Linked DNA regions of Homo sapiens. The protein of the gene in region 2 binds, or shares a complex with, the protein of the main gene of each other region. Each region holds a gene or a part of one and is shown on either strand. Other genes may lie near its edges.

Evidence for each region. The genes of interacting proteins can lie anywhere in the genome.
Region 1: the proteins of PLAAT3 (region 2) and KRAS are in contact, whole or in part, in a crystal structure (PDB 7C41), measured with the Homo sapiens proteins. Residues at the interface, in NP_001121675.1 of Homo sapiens: Leu65, Tyr66, Asp67, Val68, Ala69, Gly70, Ser71, Asp72, Lys73, Tyr74; in NP_001356715.1 of Homo sapiens: Ala11, Gly13, Lys16, Ser17, Tyr32, Asp33, Pro34, Thr35, Ile36, Thr58, Ala59, Gly60, Gln61, Asn85, Asn86, Lys88, Asp92, Tyr96, Lys117.

The regions. Positions count from the first base shown.
Region 1 is NC_000012.12:25,249,023-25,252,622, forward strand, and holds the start of KRAS (GTPase KRas), read right to left. Parts: upstream 1,908-3,600; 5' UTR 1,729-1,907; intron 1-1,728. UniProt on the Homo sapiens protein: Ras proteins bind GDP/GTP and possess intrinsic GTPase activity. Plays an important role in the regulation of cell proliferation.
Region 2 is NC_000011.10:63,600,674-63,604,617, reverse strand, and holds part of PLAAT3 (phospholipase A and acyltransferase 3), read left to right. Parts: intron 1-3,944. UniProt on the Homo sapiens protein: Exhibits both phospholipase A1/2 and acyltransferase activities. Shows phospholipase A1 (PLA1) and A2 (PLA2) activity, catalyzing the calcium-independent release of fatty acids from the sn-1 or sn-2 position of glycerophospholipids.

The sequences.
Region 1 (3,600 bases), on a different chromosome or scaffold from region 2:
CTTATTTGTAAAATGATTTCTATTATAAACATAACATATACATTGTATAACAATTAGAAAACCTGTCTGTTTTGATGGATCTCAAGATTTAAGAAGGCTTAGACTTCAGCTATAAGATGCACATGCCACTGTGGGAGGCCGAGGCGGGCAGATCACGAGGTCAGGAGTTCTAGACCAGCCTGACCAACATGGTGAAACCCCCGTCTCTACTAAAAATACAAAAAATTAGCCGGGCATGGCAGCAGACACCTGTAATCCCAGTTATTCGGGAGGCTGAGGCAGGAGAATTGCTTGAATGCAGGAGGCAGAGGTTGCAGTGAGCCGAGACGGCGCCACTGCACTCCAGCCTGGGCAACAGAGCAGATGGAGACCATCCTGACCAACATGATGAAACTCTGTCTCTACTAAAAATACAAAAATTAGCTGGGCATGGTGGCGTGCACCTACTAGTCCCAGCTACTCGGGAGGCTGAGGCAGGAGAATTGCTTGAACCCAGGAGGCGGAGGTTTCAGTGAGCCGATACCGCGCCATTGCACTCCAGCCTGGGCAACAGAGCGAGACTGTGTCTCAAAAAAAAAAAAAAAAAGGAGATGCACATGTTTAAGTCTATTTCAGGCGGTTAGCTGGTGGATTGCTACAATTCCTCTGTAAGTTTAAAAAATCATGTAAGTGCTGTTTTGGAGTACTGTAATAACTCTTGAGATGTAGAACACATCTGCAAAATGAGGGTAGTATAAAAGAGACGAGGGGATGAGGGTAATACATAAGAAATAGGGGAAAGGACAAGAACAGGTAAATTAAACTTCAAGTACTATTTTTGCTATTGCTGTCTACACTCAACTAGCAAGGAAAAAGCCTTGCTTCTGCTCTGCGGGTTTTCTTCGGGTTTAACTTGACCAAGCAAAACAGACCATCTGGGATTAACTTTTTCCTTTTCACTGTAGGTCACAGGCTCTACGTGTAGGGTGTTGGCCACCTGTTCTTCCACCATCTCTACCTCCACCTCCTCCTTTGTGGCCACAGCAATGTCACAGCCCATACATGGGGGAGGGGAGCATTCAGGAACTCGGAGGCAGATGCATTTTTTTCCAAACACAATAACCTCAAACAGTGGTCTCTAAGCACTTTCCTATGCTCTTCCAAAACGTGACCTCCCCTCTTACTCACACATCCCCTACACACGGAAAAGGACCACTATCCGTCCAGCCTGCGCTCGAGGGAGAAGTTTATACCTTCGTCCTAGAGATGCCAAATGCAGCAGGGAAGGCTGGACCGAGGCAGCCGAGTGCTGGAAAGGGAGGCAAGAGGTGCGGGAGCGGGGAGAGGGGGAGGGGAGGCCGGGGCGCCGCGGGAGTAACCTCCACCGCACCCCACCGCTCCGAGGGGCAGCCGGCCCGGCCCGAGTTTCTCCCCAGAAGCCTCCAGCCGCGGCTCTCGGGGAGGAGGAAGGAAGGGGTTCCCCGTCCAGGAAGCAGCACCAGCGGCGACCGCCTCCAGCCTCACCCTCCTCAGCCCCGCACCGCCCATTCCTCACTCCCCGCGCCGCCGCGTCCGCGCGCCTCCCCCCTGCAGACCCCTCTCACCCAGCCCGCCCCGACCCCGCGCCCGCGCCCCCCACCCGCCCCTCCGGGGACCCCTAATTCATTCACTCGCCGCCGGCCCCGCCCGGCGCCGGCAAAGAGGGTCGGGACCCGGGCAGGGGCCCAGGAGGGGTGGTCCGCTCCGTACCTCTCTCCCGCACCTGGGAGCCGCTGAGCCTCTGGCCCCGCCGCCGCCTTCAGTGCCTGCGCCGCGCTCGCTCCCAGTCCGAAATGGCGGGGGCCGGGAGTACTGGCCGAGCCGCCGCCACCTTCGCCGCCGCCACTGCCGCCGCCGCTGCTGCCTCCGCCGCCGCGGCCGCCGCCTAGGAAAATCGAGCTCCGAGCACACCGATGAGTTCGGGGCCGGGCGGCCGCAGAGGGCAGAGCTATCGATGCGTTCCGCGCTCGATTCTTCTTCAGACGGGCGTACGAGAGGGAGCGGCTGAGGGCGGTGTGGGAAGAGGGAAGAGGGGGAGGCAGCGAGCGCCGGCGGGGAGAAGGAGGGGGCCGGGCCGGGCCGGCGGGGGAGGAGCGGGGGCCGGGCCGGCGGAGGAAGGGGTGGCTGGGGCGGTCTAGGGTGGCGAGCCGGGCCGGCTGGAGAGCGGGTCTGGGCGGCGCCTTGGCGGGAGGAGGGACTGCCGGACCCACGCGGCGGCCCGCCCCCTGCCTAGCCGCAAGGCTGTCCCCGCAGCCGCCAATTCTGACCCGGAGCGGGACCGGACCGCGGCGGGCTGTGCGGATGCCACCAGGGAGACGCCGCGAGCGGCCACGCCGCCCCGCTGACCGGTCTCCACAGAGAAGCTGCGAAGAGCACCCCGCCACCCTCAGGGTCGGCCTATACTGGCGCGCATCCATTTACTATCATTGACTGCATGTAAATAAACAAGCAGTCACCAAAAGTGGGAGGCGACTTCGGGGACTTAGGGAGACCGGGCGGACGATTTCCCACACCGGGGCTGTCTGATCGCCGCCCCGATTATTATCAGCCTCAGCACTTGGGCTGGGAATTTAGCCCCAGGCCCAAACAAACACGACAGACCCTTTCAACGCTAATCTTCTCGGGTCAGGAGGCTTGTGATATTTTGCTATCTTTCTTGATATTTTGAACCCATCACAAGGTCTCTAAACAGGGACTTCGCTTATACCCAGGGCCCCTGAAATCACAAACAAAAGACAACTGTTTTTAAGTAGAGATGGCCTTGGTAGTTTAGACCTGAGGAGAGTCATTCAAACATTAATTAGAAGACAGATTAATCAGTTAAAGTTCGTGGAGTTAAGACATTAAACAATGGGGCAATTAAACATGCTAGCATACCCGGAGTCTGTGTTGATAAACTACCTAGAAATGTATCTTGGGAGAGTCTTGAGGATTGAGGGCTGGAAAAGCAGCGCCTGTACCTGATAGGATCGCCCCTCCTCCGAGACTTTCAGTTCCATTCCTCTAGTCCACATCATAAACCACCAATAAAGCTGAATTTAAATCCCAGCTATTATGTCTGTTAACCAAGGCTTTACATCAACTGTCATCCTTTCCTTTCTACTCTTACACGGGCTGTAATCTGCAAGGTTTATTCCAGTCTCCCCCTCCTAGCGCCAGGTGGAAGGGGCAGAAGAGAAAAGTGAAAGACAGGGAAGGGGAGAAAATGTGCCTACTCTATGTTAAGTACAAGCTAAATCTTTTGCACTTATCGTATCATCTTATTTAATCATCACGACAACCTTATGAGGTAAAATACTTTTTACCGTTTTACAAATGACGAAACAGATTTAGAGGTTAAAACGTTGGCACAAGTTCACATAGTTAAAAAATGGAGTATACTTCATGTCGGATCATAGTCACTCTACTCCCAGATCATCAGTGGCCCTCATTCCACTTGACATAAAAGCAAAATTCTTCTCAAAAATCCTACATGGCCTTAAATTATTTGATATCCCCTACCCTCTTCTCTGAACTCTCATCCTACTGTTCTCCCTTCCTTACTTACGTAGATAAACATTGGTTACTGGCTGTTCCTTGAAA
Region 2 (3,944 bases):
CTAATTTTTGTATTTTTTGTAGAGACAGGGTTTCACCATGTTGGCCAGGCTGGTCTCAAACTCCTGACTTCAAGTGATCCACCTTCCTTGGCCTCCCAAAGTGCTGGGATTACAGGTGTGAGCCCCCGCGCCCGGCCTAGAATATAATTAAAAAGAAAATTAATACCTTCAATTGAGAGGCAGTTTCATGAGGTTTGGCAACAGACAATATCTACATTTCCCAACTTAAAAACTGCAAGTCCATCAACATGAGTATTTTTTCCCTTTAAATACTTTTTAACATTTTTATTGTCAAAGTAATTCATATTAATAAAATTCAAACAATAAAATAATATAACATGAAATATAAAAGTTCTGAATCCCAACCACGCACTGTTGCGTATGTAATATATAACAGCTTGGTTATTTTCCTTAGCTCATATGTAGTGTATAATACGTTTTCTGTATAAATGTATAAAAAAGTCTATTATATGTATATATATTATTGAAAAAGGCTGGAGTGCAGTGGCGTGATCTCAGCTCACTGCAACCTCCACCTCCCAGGTTCAAGTGATTCTCTTGCCTCAGCTTCTCGAGTGGCTGGGACTCCAGGCATGTGCCACTATGCCCAGCTAATTTTTGTATTTTCAGTACAGACAGGGTTTTGCCATGTTGGCCAGGCTGGTCTCAAACTCCTAACCCCAAGTGATCCACCCACCTTGGCCTCCCAAAGTGCTGGGATTACAGGCATGAGCCACTGTGCCCGGCCTAAAAATGTATTTTAAGCAACAATGGAATAATAATGTCTTTCAACTTGCTTTTCTCAATTAATATTTCCATGCCTGCTCATGTAAATTCACCTTACTCTCTCTAATATCTCTGTCTGTGTGTGTGTGTGTGTGTGTGTGTGTGTGTGTGTGTGTGTGTGTGTGTGTAGGATAATTTACTTAACTAGCCCTTTTTGATGGTTGTTAGGGTTTTTTTTTCTTTTCTTTTTTTTCCTTCAACTTTTATTTTAAGTTCCAGGGTACATGTGCAGGATGTGCAGGTTTGTCACAAAGGTAAAAGTGTGCCATGGTGGTTTGCTGCACAGATCAACCCCATTACCTGGGTATTAAGCCCGGCATCCAAGCTGTTTTTTTCAATGTGAATTTCAGAGACCAGAAATTGCTCCTCAGTTTGCTTGCTAAGGAAAATGGTTGCTATGCAGCTCTTGGTAACACTGCTTTTGTGGAAAGATAAAGGCTTTTTGTTCTGAAATCCCGTGGGTGCAGAGTCTCAACTCTGCCATTGTTGTTGCGTGAGCTGTGTGGGAGAGCCTTGGTCACTGTGTGGGCTGGGGTTCTCCTGAACTTTGCCATGGAGGAGGCAGTTCTCTTCTCAGGCACTCTGCTGGCCCTGACCTTGATCCTGGAACAGAGAACTACCTGACAAGGCAGTGCAGTAGCATTCCTGGAATCAATGTAGGTTCTTTTACAATAGGGGTTGGCAAACTTTTCCTGTAAATGGACAGATAGTAAACATTTTATTATTTTATTTATTTTTTGAGATAGAGTCTTGCTCTGTTGCCCAGGCTGGAGTGCAATGGCGTGATCTCAGCTCACTGCAACCTCCGCCTCTGGGTTCAAGCGATTCTCCCTGCCTCAGCCTCCTGAGTAGCTGGGACTACGGGAGCCTGCCAACAGGCGTGGCTAATTTTTGTATTTTTAGTAGAGACAGTGTTTCACCAAGTTGGCCAGGCTGATCTCGAACTCCTGACCTCAAGTGATCTGCCTGCCTTGGCCTCCCAAAGTTCTGGGATTACAGGCATGAGCCGCTGCGCCTGGCCATCATAGTAAGCATTTTAGATCTTGCAGGCTATATGGTCTCTGTCACAACTATTCAACCCTGCTGTTGTAGAGAGGAGCCAGGGTAGACACAATGTAAATGTATGAGCCTGGCGATGTTCCACTAAAGCATTATGGACACTGAAATTTGAATTTCATATAATTTTCATGTGTCACAAAATACTATTCCTCCTTTGACTTTTCCCCCAAGCATTAAAAAAAAAAAAGTACAAACCATTCTTAGCTTGCAGGCAGACCTCTTGCAGGCAGAGGTCCAAATTTGGCCCATGAACTGCAGTTTTCATACTTCTAAATTTAGAACATGAGTTTTTGGATTCTTAGTTTTGATTCAGCTGAGATGGGTGACGTGTATAATGATAAGTACTTGTTTTTCTAGGTGGATCTTAGTGGTAGAGGTGAATTATTCATATCTTCATTTCATAGCGCCCTGTCCTTGCTGGTCCCTACAAGACTCCCCTGTCTTCTGTGTTTATTTGTTCCCTTTAATCATCATTTTTTTTTTTTTTGAGACAGTTTCACTGTCACCCAGGCTGGAGGGCAGTGGTGCGATCTTGGCTCACTGCAACCTCCGCCTCCTGGGTTCAAGTGATTCTCCTGCCTCAGCCTCCCAAGTAGCTGGTATTACAGATGTGCACCACCACGCCTGGCTAATTTTTGTATTTTTAGTAGAGACGGGGGGTTTCACCATATTGGCCAGGCTCGTCTCAAACTTCTGACTTCACGTGATCTGCCTGCCTCGGCCTCCCAAAGTGCTGAGATTACAGGTATGAGCCACTGTGCCTGGCCTCCTTTTGTTTTTTTTTTTTTTTTTGAGACAGAGTTTCGCTCTTGTCACCCAGGCTGGAATGCAATGGTGCAATCTCTGCTCACTGCAACCCCCACCACCTCCTGGGTTCAAGCAATTCTCCAGCCTCAGCCTCTCGAGTAGCTGGGATTACTGGCGTACGCCACCACGTCTGGCTAATTTTTTTTATTTTTGGTAGAGGCAGGGCTTCACCATGTTGGCCAGCCTGGTCTTGAACTCCTGACCTCGGGTGATCCGCCCACCTTGGCCTCCCAAAGTGTTGGGATTACAGGCGTGAGCCACTGCATCCGGCCATGTATCTTTAATTTATATAAGTGGCATTTTGTTACAGAGCTCATCCCCATTTTTCCACTTCGCAGTGTCTTTTAAAGATATCCAACTTGCCAAGTGACCATCAAACCCTTGCTCCTAACTAGTGTGTAGGGCTCCATAGGTGAGCCCACTGTCTTTTACTTCATTTTCAAAAAGAAGTTGTCTTGAGTGAGATTATGTGTTGAGCTTGAGCGTAATTATGTGTTGAGCTTGGGAATATGTATCTCTTGCCCTTACAAAGAATAGGCAGATTGGCTGAATGTCAAAAAAAAAAAAAAATTACAGCTTTTTTCCCTTCTAAACTGTAAATAAATATTTAAAATTTATTTATTATTATTATTTTTTGAGATGGAGTCTCACTCTGTCACCCAGGCTGGCGGATCACAAGGTCAGGAGATCGCGACCATCATGGCTAACATGGTGAAACCCCATCTCTACTAAAAATACAAAAAAATAGCCGGATGTGGTGGCAGGCGCCTGTAGTCCCAGCTACTTGGGAGGCTGAGGTGGGAGAATGACATGAACCCGGGAAGCGGAGCTTGCAGTGAGCCGAGATCGTGCCACTGTACTCCAGCCTGGGTGACAGAGAGAGACTCTGCCTCAAAAAAAAAAAAAAAAATTTTTTTTTTTGTTTAATTTTTATTTATTTTTAAAATTTAGTTTCTTAAAAAAAATTAAGTTATAACTTACCCTTTCAGTGTTTACTTCTGTGAGTCTTAATAAACACATGTAATTGCAGAATGGTTGCCACATTCAGGATGTAGAAGAGTAGGCCGGGCGTGGTGGCTCACGCCTGTAATCCCAGAACTTTGGGAGGCTGAGACGGGTGGATCACCTGAGGTTGGGAGTTCAAGACCAGCCTGGCCAACATGGTGAAACCCCATCTCTACTAAAAATACAAAAAATTAGCCAGGCGTGGTGGCATACGCCTGTAGTCCCAGCTGCTTGGGAGGCTGAGGCAGGAGAATCGCTTGAACCCGGGAGGTGGAGGTTGCAGTGAG